2 separate regions of the Homo sapiens genome follow, and region 2 is linked to region 1. Evidence: fine-mapped expression QTL. Tissue or cell type: monocytes after LPS. Region 1 holds a variant in brackets; the other region holds the start of a gene. All regions are shown on one strand. Distances are between the middles of the regions.

Region 1 (8,287 bases):
TCAATTGTCGAGAGGAAGGGTGTTGAAGTCTCCCACTGTAGATTTACCTATTTCTCCTTTCAGTTCTGTCAATTTTTGCTTAACATAATTTTCAGCTCTGTTGTTAGGTACCTACACCTTTAGGATTGCTGTGCTTTCTTAAGGGATTGACCCTTTTATCATTATATAGTGTACCTCTCTCTGGTATTTTTCTTTGCTCTCGTCAACTTTATCTGACTTTAACATAGCTACTTCTGCTTGTTTTTTTATTATTACTATTTTATTTTCTTTCATGTGCCACTACAAGAAGCCATCCTACTTTCTTTTGAATAACATTCACATGATCTTTTCTCACTCTTTTAGTTTCAATCTGCTGTATTTGAAGTGAGTTTCCTGTATACAGCACAAAGTTGTCATTTTCTAATCTACTCTACCAGTCCCTTTTGTGTATTTAGACCATTTACATTTAATGGATGACTGATATGGCTTAAGTGTGCAATCTTATTTTTGTTTTCTGTTTGTCACATTTCTTCTTTATTTCTGACTTCCTATGGGTTAAACATTTTTTAATCATTTACATTTATTCTTCCATATATATATATATATATATATCTTTTTTTTTTTTTTTTTTTTGAGACAGAGTCTTACTCTGTCACCCAGGCTGGAGTGCAGTGGCGTGATTTTGGCACACTGCAACTTCTTCCTCCAGGGTTCAAGTGATTCTCATGCCTCAGCCTCCCGAGTAGCTGGGATTACAGATGCCTGCCACATCACACCTGGCTAATTTTTGTATTTTTAGTACAGGCGGGGTTTCACTATGTTGCCCAGGCTGATACTGAACTCCTGACCACCCGTCAGGGTGATCCACCTGCCTTGGCCTCCCAAAGTGCTGGGATTACAGGTGTGAGCCACCACGCCCAGCCTCTCACGTATATCATTCTTAAATATTTCTTCTACATATATTTAGAATCACGTTAGACAGTGTTACAACTTTTCTTTCAACCACCAAACATATTTCAGAAAACTCTTTGAAAGAGAAGGGAAGTCTATCGTATTTACGCACATTTTTAGATTTCTTATTTTTGTTATAATCATTCCCTTTCTGTTTAGAGAACTTCCTTTAGCCATACTGCTAGCAACAGATTTTTAGCCAAAAAAAATTTTTTTCATTCATAATGAAAGGGAAATGACATTGTCAAATGACAGAAAATGGGTATAGGATTCTGGGTTCACAGTTCTTTTCTTTCTTTACTTGAAAACTATTGTGCCACTTTTTTCTAGCCTCCCTGGTTTCTGATGAGAAATCCATTGTGTTCTTATGTGTTTTATTCCCCTGTAGGTAAGGTTTCATTTTTGTCTCTCAAGACTTTCTTTGCGTTTAGTATTCAGAAGTTTAACTATGATGTGTCTTGGCATGGATTTCTTTGGGTTTATCCTGTTTGAGTTTGCTCAGCTTCTTGAATTGATAGGTTTATGTCTTTTGCTAAATTTGAGAAGTTTTGACTGTTACTTCTTCAGGTACTTTTCAGCCCCATTCTATCCACTCTTTCCAGACCTTTGTTGACACTAATGTGAGATCTTTAATTATAGTCTTGTAGGTCCCTGAGGTTTTGTTCTTTTTTACCCACAGATTATTTTCTTTCTGTTGTACAGACTGAGTAATTTCTATTGTTTTATCTTGGAAGTTCTCTGATTATTTCCCTTGTCCCCTCTATTCTGATGTTGAACCTGTTTTTATTTCAGTTATATATTTTAGTTAAAAATTTCCATTTGCTTCTTCTTTATATCTTTTATTTCCTTGCAGAGACTTTGAGTCTCTTCCATTTGTTTAAGCATTTTTAGAATTGTGGTAAAACATACAAAACATAAAATTTACTGTTTTAACCATTTTTAAGTATACAGTTTAATGGCATTAAGGACATTCACATTGCTGTGCAATCATCACCAGCATCCATCTCCAGAACCACCTTCATTTTCCCAAACTGAAACTCTGTACTCATTAACCAATAACTCCCCATTTACCCCTCCCCACAGCCTCTGGCAATCACCATTTATTTTGTGTCTCCATCATCTGACAACTCTAGTCACCACATATATGTGGAATAAGAAACTCCTGTCCTTTTTTGTCTAGCTTATTTTACTTAGGTCTTTAAGGCTTATCTGCATTGTAGGCGTGTCAGAATTTCATTTCCTTTTAAAGCTGAATAATTTTCCATCATATGTATATATCACATTTTGTTTATCCATTCATCAATCCATGGACATTTGGGCCATTTCCACCTTTTGGCTTTTGTGAATAATGCTGCTGTGAACATTGGTATGCAAATATCTCTGAGCCTCTGCTTTTAATTATTTTTGATATATACTCAGAAGTGGAATTACTAGATCATATGGTCATTCAATGTTTAATTTTTTTATTAAATACTGTTTTTACTAATTAAATACTGTCATACTCTTTTTCACAGTGGCTGGACCATTGTACATTTCTTCCAGCAGTACACATGGATTATCATTTCTCAACATCCTCACCAATATTTGCTGTGTTTTAGTAATGGCCAAACTAATGAGTGTGAGGTGGCATCTTACTGTGGTTTTTATTTGCGTTTCCCTAATGATTACTGATGGGAATCTTTTTATGTGTTTGTGGGCCATTTGTATATCTTCTTTGGAGAAATGTCTATTCAAGTCTTTGCCCATTTTTAGAATTGAAGGGTGTTGTTGTTGTTGTTGTTGAATTGTAAGAGTTTTGTTTTTTTTGAGACGGAGTTTCGCACTTGTTGCCCAGGCTGCAGTGCAATGGTGCAATCTCGGCTCACCGTAACTTCCACCTCCCAGGTTCAAGCGATTCTCCTGCCTCAGCCTCCTGAGTAGCTGGGATTATAGGCATGCACCACCTGTAGAGATGGGGTTTCTCCATGTTGGTCAGGCTGGTCTCAAACTCCCGACCTCAGGTGATCCACCCACCTTGGCCTCCCAAAGTGCTGGGATAACAGGCGTGAGCCACCACGCCTGGCCCAAGTTGTAGGATTTTGTACCAGTACCCCACTATCTTGATTATTGTAGCTTTGTAGTAAGTTTTGATATCAGTTAGTATGAGAACTCCAGCTTTGTTCATTTTCAAGATTGTTTTGGAGATTTAGGGTCCCTTGAGATTCCATATGAATTTTAGGATGGATTTTTCTATTACTACTAAAAACACTGGTTCATTGGTTTATGTCAGTCATATCAAAATAAACACATCAGTTTCAGTAGTACTGATTACATTAAGCTTATTAGACTTCACTCATCCCATATAACAGTTCTCAGAGTCCTAACAGGAATCCTATATTTTCTTGTAATTGAAGTTAAATAGAGAAAGCAAGTCAGAAAGAAGAGGACAAAAAATCTAAAAGGGAGTCCAGTGTCACAGAAATTTGTTGAAGGATATGAAGTATAAACTTTTCTTTTGCCACAAAATTAATTTGAAACATATCCTAAGCTTTTTGGTAAGTCATTGGACTTCATATTTGAACTGGTGATAGGGTTGTATGTAACCAAACCTTGAGATCATACAGTGAGCTGTGTTTAATTATAACTCATTATTGTAATTAATCTTACATTGTAGAACTTGACGTCTCGTTTTTCTTTTTAAAAATTGGGCAAGTAGCTGTGCAGTGGCTCATGACTGTCATCCCAGCTACTTGGGAGACTGAGCAGGATGAATCCCTTGAGGCTAGGAGTTTGAGGCTGCAGTAAGCTGTGACCATGCCACTGTACTCAAACCTGGGCAGCAGAGCAAGTCCCCATCTTTAAAATTTTTTCCTTTAATTTAAAAAAAAGTAAAGTTTTTATGATTTTTTTAAATTATAATACATTTCTAAGAAAGACATTGCTAGGCTACTGCTATGTCTTTTTCCAGAATTGTTTCTAGTTTTATAAGCTTAGTCTTGTCAAAATAAACATTTTGGTATATGTTTTGGATAGACTTAGAACAACCTAACAGAATCATATCTGTTATTTTTTTGTCTTCCAGAATGTCTACACAAGGAAGTACAGGATTTGGCTTTTCTAGATGTCGTATCCAAACTTCGCAGTCATGAGAACAAAAGTGTTGCCCAGCAGGCCTCTCTCACAGAGCAGAGACTTACTGTGGAAAGCTGAGAACTGCCCGATACACGGCATCATCCCATCTCTAATTTCCCCTCTGTCCTCCATCCAGCGGCTTCTTCCGCTTCATTCTCTACCATACCACTTGTGCATGCATGTGATGTTCTAATACCAATTGAAGAACC[G/A]CTGTAGGTACCTCCCTAATAAGATTTCTAAACCTATAGTTAGTGTGATCATGACTTTGTCAAAGGCAAGTCTCCACCCATAACCGTTCTCTTGTATTCCTGTTGCTTGAGCTACATTAAGTAGAATGTGCATGTTGTAGTCCTATGATGATGTAAACTTGGTACTACATAATGACTTGCTCCACACATGCAGTAAACTACATAATGATGTACTGGTAAACTAGAAACAAAGAATGCAGCAGGATCTGTCTAGCTTATTAAAGATGAAACTGAATTGGAAAAATAGCTCCATTTTTTGGTGCTTGGGAAGCACAGTGACCAAAAAAGTTGTATGGCTGCTTATTCATTAGTCTTTCCTACTGATGTCAAATCCATGGTACCTAGAGTTAAATAAAATTCCAATGCTCTTACTCTTTAACTTCTGGTTTCTCCTTTTTCCTTTTTAGACTATTGAAACTGCCACAAACTTGGCAAGACTTTCTGAGGTTTCTGATTCCATATTTAATTGACTATTATCAATAGCCTGATATTGAAAAACATTTGTAGTTTTCAGTGTGAAACTAAGGGGTTGAAGAATCACTATTACAATCCCTATTACAGAGCATTTCGGGTTTTGCTTGTATTTTAGATTCTGATACATACGCTGTTTCACTCAGGAACTACTTCTACCAGTTAATCAGCATTATCCAGCACTTGTCTTTAAAATTCATTTGGCGCTTGTTTGTTTTCAACTGAGGAAATTGAGTATAGTTCATTGAAGAATGGAATTTTTTTTTTTTTTTTTTTTTTTGCTGTTTTTCATCATTCAGCTAGAAAGTGAGAAGTTTTATCTTCCATAGTCCTTTTAAATCTTATGTTAGAACTAGCAGGACGTAGGTGGAAAGATGAAGAAATAAGCTTGTCTAGACTAAAGAAAGGAAAGCAGGTTATAAAAGCCATAGTAGCCAGTCCAGTTCATTCTGCAGATGGCCCCATACCAATCGCTGTTAGAGTTTGCCACCTCCACTTTCCCACTGAGAACTGCAGCAATTTTAAAGGATATGAGAAAGCCAAGACTCAAGAGATGAGAAGACCCCCTTGGCGAAATATAGTGTACTCTTCACTGCCACTGCCACCACCAAATGGGTTTTTAGAGCTTTGAAACACAATCTTTGTAAATTAATCAAAACCTCCCTGTGACCCACCTGCCTTCTCCCCATACCCAAATTTGACCACTACTGGCCTAAAAGGCAAGATGGGCTTCGATATAGAAGGACTGCAAGACAGTAGAAAGGGCTGCCACGGAGGTGACAGTAGCTCCTTCCTCTCCAACATGTGATGCTACACATCTCTGTGGATAATCTAAGTTGGACTTTTGACTCTAAAACAGCTATAATCCAAGAAAGTTAAATTCTAATGGAGGTAAAGAATCTTGACTGATTGTTCCCTTTGATGTCCAAATAAGGGAACTATTGTGAGTACGTATGCTACACTTACTATAAGAATGATACTGTTTGTTGTCTTTCTCCTGGGCTGGATAGTGGACTATATTTTATTACAGGCTTTGAAAGACATCTGTAATGTTGCATATCTGTTCATATTAATAACTTAATAAATAGTATATGAAGCTATAATGGCATCATTTGGTTTGTTTGTATATTTTGTCTCTATTTCCAGCTCCTAGAATAAGGCTTGCTATTGATGTTCAACAAATATTTGTTGACTGAATGAATGAATCCTGCATCCATGAAGTTTCCAGACTGCCTGAACTAATTCCAGAAAGATAGACTGACTGACTGATAGAAAGTTTGAGATTTGATAGTTTGTCTGACTTTAGGGAAAAAATTTTAACAAAAGCATCCTAAAATCGTAAATGTGAGAGAAGTTACCATCTAGGCCAGCTGCCAGCCATCAATTTGCTAATATGCTAGGAACTCCCATCTCCAGCAAAATAAAGTGCAATTCAAAGTACTCATCATTGTACGGAAAGACCAGAAGGCTGTGCCCTTATCACAGGGGCTACCAAATTAGATGGTACACTGATGTGCCATTGCAGTGGATGGGAGAGTCTACAGACTGTACTCTCGCTTATCTCCTGCTACTAAATCTTAGTCCTAGAGGCCACTATTTATTAAGTTAGTTTGCTACCCACTAAGAGTACATTCTAAGGGAGACAACAGGAGGGAAGAACAGCACAACAAAGCTTTAACTGTCAATCTTGAGCCAGTACTAGAACATAGATGAAAAGGGCAGGAATACAAGCAAAGAAGATGCCTGAGTGCAATGCACTAGAATATACCCCTTTCCCCCCAACCCCATTAGCAACTTGGAGTCATGCCAGCCCACCCACCTAGACCATAACCTCATTGTGCTCAAAGCAAACACTAGCCCATAACCCAGTGTTTTCCATGATAAAAACATGTTTTGAGCATACTGTCTGATAAGAATGGAGACATAGAAGAAAACTTTTTCATCTAAAATGATTTCTTGAATAGAATGCAGTTCTCATATGCAAGCATTAGTCTGAAGTGTTCTGAAAAATGCTACATGTGAAGAATTCAAAAAGAAATGCTCTTTGTTATAATTAGGAGGCTTATTATCTAATTCTCTTGAACATACTGGGTGAGGATATCTAGACATTAAGACATTTAGGTGAGCATTACCCTTTGTATCCAGCTGTTACTGGAATCAGTAAGCTTAAAAGCCACTTAACATTAGGACGCTATAACATTTGTATTACACAAGTGTCTATTAAAAAGCATGTAATAATATTTGGGATGAATCTTTATAGCTGTAGCCAGGAAAACTGAGGTCTTTTTTCACAGGTGTGATCTCTAACTTTGCCTATATACATATAAATAATATGCCATGTAACTTCACTCTGTCGTCCAGGCTGGAGTGCAGTGGCACGATCTTGCTCACTGCAACCTCCGCTTTCCAGGTTCAAGTGATTCTCCTGTCCCAGCCTCCCAAGTAGCTGGGATTACAGGCATGTGCTCTGACGCCTGGTTAATTTTTGTATTTTTAGTGGAGACAGGGTTTTACCATGTTGACCAGGCTGGTCTTGAACTCCTGACCTCAAGTGATCCACCCGCCTCGGCCTCCCAAAGTGTTGGGATTACAGGCGTATGTTTTATAGGTGTGTCTGACTCAAGTTATGTACTTTAAAAGGGTGATACAGTGCAAAGAGTGTGGTCTTTGGATGCTGTCTAATCTATAGTCATATCCTGGGTCTGTTACATACTAGCTGTGTGACCATAGCCAAGTTACTTAAACTCTTTGGGCCTGATTTCTCAATATGACAAGTTTAATAATCCCTACTTCCCTTAGGATTTTCATGACAATTGAACTTTTAGACGTTCAAGACAAGGTGAGATGGAATTGTGATATCTTAGGGCCTAACCTATATACTCCTCTCTCACTGCTGCAGGATTCCCAACTAAAAGGATTCAAAAAACAACCCCCAAACAGCAGACAGTATGCCTATTAATAGTTTGTAATGTAGAAACAAAATGGCTCACACCTGTAATCCCAACACTTTGGGAGGCTGAGGCGTGTAGGTCACTTGAGGTCAGGAGTTCAAGACCAGCCTGGTCAACATGGTGAAACCCTGTCTCCACTAAAAATACAAAAATTAACCAGGCATCAGGGTGCACACCTGTAATCCCAGCTACTTAGGAGGCTGGGACAGGAGAATCCCTTGAACCTGGAAAGCAGAGGTTGCAGTGAGCCGAGATCGTGCCACTGCACTCCAACCTGGATGACAGAGTGAGAGTCTGTCCCAAAATAAAAATAAAATTTTTAATGAAATTGAGCTTTTTAGCTGTAGCCACAGAGATTCTCCCTAACACTTTGAAAATGGACAATACACATCTGTCTCCTATTTATAACACTAGACAGGAACTTAATATGATGACAATTCATTTTTATATATTGGAACCAAATTATCAAACAAAACAAGCCAGGTAGGTACTGCTGCCTGCGGTTCTTCTGACCTTTGCTCTCTTGGTCTGGTGGTCTTCTCTGGTCCACTAGCAGGAGGACCAGAGAAGGTCAGC
Region 2 (6,678 bases), 180 kb before region 1:
TCAGTATATGCACTAAGCCTGAACAATCCTTTGGTTTTAATTGGCAGGAAGGCTAAGGAGATGGCTTGTAGATTGAAGTAGAACAAAAAAGGCACTTTAACTAGTGTCAGATGGGAAATGAGAAAGCCACTTCAGCTGCTTTTGCTAATTTCAACGCTTACATCCAAATAAATGATAGAAGATACTCCATGAAATTATTATAATATGTAATTAGATAAGGAAGTAGGAAAAATAAAGCAAGTTAACTTGACAATCTGGAAGAGATTAATGAGTGTTAAGGAGAGATGAACAAAAAATGATGAGCAGCAATGCAAAGGCCCAGGCTGGTCTTCTGGAGGAGTAATAAAATTAATGTGTAACATGGCCGATGTGGGGGCAGTGAGGGGCCCTGAGGGTGGGGTCTGCATTGGTGTATTATGGGTTGAATTGTGTACCCCTCCCGGATTCTTTTTTTTTATTTTTATTTTTTTTGAGACAGGGTCTTGCTCTGTGGCCCAGGCTGGAGTGCAGTGGTGCAATCTCAGCTCACTGCAACCTCCGCCTCCCGGGTTCAAGCGATTCTCCTGCCTCAGCCTCCCAAGTAGCTGGGATTACAGACACGTGCCACCATGCCCAGCTAATTTATTTATTTTATTTATTTTTTAGTAGAAATAGGGTTTTGCCATGTTGGCCAGGCTGATCTCCAGCTCCTGACTTAAGTGATCTGCCCTCCTGAGCCTCCCAAAGTGTTAGGATTACAGGCGTGAGCCACTGTGCCTGGCCCTGGCTAATTTTTTGTATTTTTAGTTAGAGATGGGGTTTCGTCATGTTGGCCAGGCTGGCCCTATTCATATGTAGAAGTCCTAACCCTTAGTCCCTTAGAATGTGACCTGATTTGGAAATAGGGTCATTGCAGATATAATTAACGTCCATGAGGTCATACTGGAGGATGGTTCGCCCCTAATCCGTTATGACTGCTGTTCTTATTAAAAAGGGAAATTTGAACACACAAGCACACTGGGAGAACAGCCATGTTCAGATTGGAGTTACGCTACCATATGCCAAGAAACTACCAGAAGCTAGGAGAGGCATGGACGAGATCCCTCCCCAGTGCCCTCAGAGGGAGTACAGCCCTGCCTACACCTTGATTTCAAACTTCTGGCCTCCAGAATTGTGAGATAATAATTTGTTGTTTTAAGTCACCCAATTTGTGGTATGTTACGGCAGCCCTAGGGAACTAATGTAGTGCGATTATTTTAAGAGGCAAACAAGAAGAACATCCTAAGAGTGAGGTGCCTGATAGTCTCATGCATCAGAAAAGTCCCATATATTTGACTTCAGCAGTTAAATTGTATTTTCCTGTTTTACCAAACCTTTTTAATTATCGTTTCTTGCTGTAGAAAAATCACATAAAATCTGCTCTTTGCTTAACAAATTACAGGGTCGCTTCTGATTTGTGTGCTCGAAATACTAGTCACCAAGCAGAAACTGATGACTGTGAGAATAGGCGACTAATTAACAAACAAACAAAAAAAGCCCTTTCTCAACATTGGATTGACCGAGTGAAAGTTGACAGGGGAAAGACACCTCGATTCAGCCATCTTTCTCCAACAGGTTGTACTGCTGACTGCACAGTGTCCCCTGAAGGACTCCGGTCGCTGTAGCCTTGGAGAGCGACCAGATTCCTCACCCCACTCAGGAGGAGCCAGGGCAAGATTAGGGTGCAGAGAAATCGGTTTCCTCCAGCCTCCTACCCCAGGGAAGAGGACCGAAGCCAGCCCCGGCCTCACGTGCATGCCCAGTCGGGAGGACGCCCTCAGTGGGAGAGCCCTGCTCAGGTTCTCCCCGAGGCCGAGGTGGTGGTGGGAGCGGGCGGTGGCCCCGGGATCAAAGGACCTCCGCCGGGTTAGCTTTGGCAGTGCCGCAGCCAACCCAGCAGGACGCTTATTTTCAAGCCTGGGGAACGTAGTTCCTCCCGCTTTCACAGCAGGATGGAGCCCGACGGCACCCCGGTTAAAGGGCCTTTCCAGAGCCCTCCGGGGAACGGAAGGCCGCGCTCCTCCGGGAGGGAGAACGACACACTCTTCGAGGAAATCCTGGGGCGGGCGCTCTCCTCGCTGCCGGGACCTTTGTTTCTAAGCTGGCCACAGCTAGAGCAGCCTTAAGTGTCCCAATGACACGCCTGCTATCGAGCGCCCTCCCGGCGGCCCCTCCTCAGCCAGCTGCCCAGCGGGCGTCCTCAGGTGTCCCCAAGAGGCGCAGGCCTAGTCGCCTACACGTCCTTTCCAACTTCGTCAGCTCTGGCTTCCCACCACCCCTCCCGGCTCTGCGGCGGCCCAGCCTCTTCTCCGGTTAATTCCGGCCTGTGCGGCCCGGTCGTCCCGTAAAGAAGGCAAGCCCGGGTTCCGGGTGAGGGGTTGGTGGGTCAGGGTGGGAAAGCAAGGCAGCGGTGAGTCCTCTGCTAGCAGATCGGGCTCAATATCCCCATTCCCTGTTTTCTCCGGGCCCGCCCTCCGCCTCTCAGGCGGCCGCCATGAAGATCCTCTGCCGCGGCTGCAGCCGGTCTGCAAACACACGCCCACCCGCACGCTTAGCCTCGCTCGCCACAGAGGGAGGGGTGGAAAAGGCACTGAGCATGCTCGGTGGGGAGGGCGGGGCGCTCGTGGGCTGCGAGTCGGGGCCGGAGCTCTTCAGGCCGGCTCCCGCGCCTCCGCCGCCCGCCCGCTCGGAGCCGCGCCCGCCGCAGGCTGCGCCCGCCAGTCCCGCCCCGCCCCGCCCCGCCCCGCCCCCCGCCGCTCGTCCCCGCCGCGGCCGCGCCGCCTGCAGCAGCACCAGCTGCTCCTCCCCGGCGGCCGCCCCCCGCGGGTCCCTCCCTGGCTGCGGGAGAGACGGAGGTAGAGGGAGGACACAGAGCCGCGCCGCCCGCACCACAGACCTTCGCCTCGCCCCGCCGGTTCCTCACCCTCGGGGAGCAACATGGGTAAGTCATCCTTCCTCCGCCGTCATCGCCTGACATTTTTTTCTTTCTCGGCGTGCTGCAGGGTGGGAAGCATTTCTCGCGCAAAGTTGCCGGATTTCTCCAGTCCCCGGGTGTGAGACGGTGGCTGTTCCTCCGGGGAGAGTCGGCGCACGCGGAACGCACGCCGGGTGCCGGGGCTGGGAGGGTCCCGAGCGCGGGCTGGGGTGGGGTCGGCCGCGGGCCGGACCGCCGCCCGGCTCCCCGGCACCTCGCAGCCTCGCCTCCCCTCCTCCATTCTTCCTGCCGGTGCCCGGGCACCACGGAGCCTGCCTCGCGGGCTCGCATCTGCAGCTCCATCCCCGTTTCTCCAGAGGCCGCCCGCTTCCTTTTCCCCCGCGTGTACTGAGCTCGAGGCTCGGGTCCGACCACTACCACTTCGTGTAACTTCCTTCTCTGTCAGTGCGACCTTTCCCCGTCGTGGAGACTCCTCATCCCGGGCGGGGAAGTGGAAGCAAGTAGTTTGTGAGGGAGATCTTACAACCTGCACGGAAATTATTTTCCAAGGGGGAGAGCGGACAGCCTCATAGGTTGAAAGGATGACTTGTCAGAGGCCACGAGGAACGTGAGGCAGGATAGAGCCGCTAGCTGTTGAATTAGTGCTGGGTGACTACAGTGTGCAATATTCCCGTGCCCAGCCTATTTTCTGGATTCCTTCGTCCGTCTTCTGTAGCAGGAAACTGCGCCCTGTAACGTTGTTACCGAACTTACATGGTAGTTATTCTTTCCCAGCTTCCTCCTGTCTAATCTGCATAATCTGATTTTAGTTCCTTTGTATTTATAGTTAATCTGAAGAGATTGGTTTGGATGAGAGATTTAAGAGCAAATATGTTTTATAAAACGATATATACATTTGACCTAATTTTTTTACATCATCTATTGCTTAACTGTTACATTCAGTAATCACAGAAACGTCTGATGAATGCTGTCATGTAATTAAGAGCTCAAAGTTTCTTTTAATAGTAGCGACTTGTACTAAGTTCCCCAGTTTGCTTCCACTCCTGTCTGTCATAATTTCCTCTTTTTAAAATTTGCTCCCTTGGCATCTGTCAGCTGGGACTTTTCCCACCCCTTCTGTGCGAGTTATTTAAAGCTTGAGATGAATGTGGTCCTTTCATCTGTTAATACAGTGCTCAACACGTTCAGAGTTAGGTGGTGCAACTCAGAATCTTCAAGAAGTATCTAAACCTGGGAATGGTGTCCATAGAGTTTTCTGGAACAGCAAATGCTTCAGGCTTTGATCCCGACCTTTGGCCATATATCTGGAAGAGGCCAGGGTTGACGGAGGAGGTGGTATGAATCAAAAAAGGTCTAGGGCTCTGAATTTTATTTTCAGTTGTTTTTTCTTTTTAACGTGAGTACTCGATATGCTGAACAAATTTCTGTAAAAATTGGGTGGCCCATTTATGCGTGTCTGCCTTTCTCTTAAAGTAGATTTTTAAATAGGTATTATATCAGATTATTGGACAAGCTGTATATTTCCGTCGAACATACACACGTTTATGTGTGTTCCCTTTGAACATACACAGATAAAATACACTTTGAAATAAAATTCCTTTGAACATACATACACAGATAAGTGTGTGTATGTTCAAAGGAAATATACAGTATGTCCAATAACCCTATCTGATATTGGACTGTAAGTTCAAGTTTGGCTTGCAAAATATATTTTCCCATGTTTCCAGGTGAGCCTTAAACAATCCATTTAACATTTTAGCTTACATGTTAAATCCGTACTTTTTCAGTGGAAAAAATCCAATTCCGTTACAACACTGGTGAATAAAAATACCTAAAAGAAATTATCTACTTAAAAATAATCTTCAAAATCTTGAGTGCTATTGCTTGATTTTTAAAAAGGGCCAAATAGAAACCTATCTCTCATTTTGAAGCCATCTCTGATACTCTTTGGTTAATCTGTCTCTTCATAAGCACTGTTTGTACCTTGTTAGAAGCTTTTTAGCACTTACGTAATCTACCATATAATAAAGTTGTTTATGTGTGTGCTGTGCATTTAATCATGAGTCCCAGAAGATGAAAAGTGTCTTATTATTTTTTGTGTTCCCCACAGTGCTTTTCAAATAGAAATTCAGTAAATCTTTGGCAAATTGTTGAACTTAAAGCCACCTATTATTTTCAACTTTTGAACCTGAAGATATAGTCTTCATCTGAACAAACATTTGGGTTGGTACATATTATCTAGTTGGGGGATAAGCAGAAACAGAAAGGTATAATTGTACCATGCCTCCCAGTACACTGTAGGTTGGTTTTGAGTCAACCTCAGGCAATCTGTTTCCTTCTAAACTCTCTTCAATGGTAAGGCAGTTTCATGTATGATCAGTAGGTACATATGATAATTTAAAATTGAAACCTTGGGGAACAGTTTTATATCTGGGCCAAGGAAGTTAGTATAACAATTCATGTACACATAAGAAGGTAGAAGGTATACTGGTTAATGATGAGGGGAGGGAGAAGTGCTTTTTAATTTGTCTCAAGAAATAAATAAGGTTGATTTTTAAAGATAGTCTCAGCCGGGCGCGCACTTTGGGAGGCCGAGGCGGGCGGATCACCTGAGGTCAGGAGTTGGAGACCAGCCTGACTAACATGGTAAAACCCTGTCTCTACTAAAAATACAAAAAAACAATTAGCCGGGTGTGGTGGCGGGCGCCTGTAATCCCAGCTGTTTGGGAGGCTGAGGCAGGAGAATCACTTGAACCCGGGAGGCGGAGTTTGCAGTGAGCCGAGATCATGCCATTGCACTCCAGCCTGGGCAACAAGAGGGAAACTCTGTCTCAAAAAAAATATATATATATATTCTCATGGCAATAATTTCCTACACAAGAGAGTGAAAGAAAAGTCCTATATAACTTTATGGCCATAGCTACTATTTTATGTATATGTCATATTTCAGATTCAACATACATTTAGTGTTTGTTGGATATCAACTGTGCAGTGTACTGTACTACAGTGTACTGGGAGGACAAAGATAAAAAGATATTCATGTTTCACATTTATAATCTTAGCAGGAACAATATGACACATACACAAATTATAATAGAAGTAAAAGTATAAGTTATATAAAAGACCTTTACATATATTATAGATTCAGAGAATGGAGAGAACGTTTTAGAGAAATGGTGTTATTTGAACCAAAGGTGGGTTAAACTTCTTAAAGGTAGAAATGAGACTGTTAATCAGAATGGAGTTGGTCTGGGGTTGGAAGAGAAATGACATAAATGAAGATAGATAGGAAACATTTTATGAATTTCCAGGATATGATTAAACAGCATTGTTTGGCTAGAGCAAAAGGTAAGGAAATAGTGGGTAACAGACATGAAAAAGTAGTACAGTAATAGCTAATGACCAGATAATGTAGGATCTAAAATGCCAAGCTGAAGAATTTTAATCTGACTTACCTATTGAGAGACCACTAAACATTTTTATGTAGTTAAGTGATGGATCACATCTGTGGTATAGGAAAATTTGTCAGTTGAGTGCAGGATCGATTAGATGAGAAACTACAGAACACTTCAGAAGATTGTTGTTGGAGTTTGGACGAAAATGTTTAATGGCTTGAACCAGGTTATGGCAACGGGAATAGAATATTGCAAATAAAGAATAGGATTTACTTGGCAACCCATTGAGTATGGAATTGAGAGTCACAGGTTTTAGCCTGGGTGATAATG

The links. PIP is the estimated chance that this variant, and not a neighbour inherited with it, causes the effect.
Region 2: RAP1GDS1 starts here. The variant in region 1 is fine-mapped to the expression of RAP1GDS1 in monocytes after LPS (Fairfax 2014, PIP 0.95). The same link has a PIP of 0.9 or more in B cells, CD8 T cells, NK cells, monocytes, monocytes after interferon gamma and transverse colon.

The regions. Positions count from the first base shown.
Region 1 is chr4:98,437,999-98,446,285 of GRCh38, forward strand. It overlaps RAP1GDS1 (Rap1 GTPase-GDP dissociation stimulator 1), which reads left to right. Exons shown (of 15, transcript NM_001100427.2): 15 at 3,992-5,860. The coding sequence ends at 4,119. Among named protein-coding and RNA genes, the nearest start is that of RAP1GDS1, 180 kb to the left of the region's middle. The variant G/A (reference allele first, on the strand shown) is at 4,251.
Region 2 is chr4:98,258,611-98,265,288 of GRCh38, forward strand. It overlaps RAP1GDS1 (Rap1 GTPase-GDP dissociation stimulator 1), which reads left to right and starts at 2,774. Exons shown (of 15, transcript NM_001100427.2): 1 at 2,774-2,959. The coding sequence starts at 2,956. RefSeq lists enhancers at 2,015-2,314, 2,066-2,628 and silencers at 2,595-2,894, 2,995-3,064.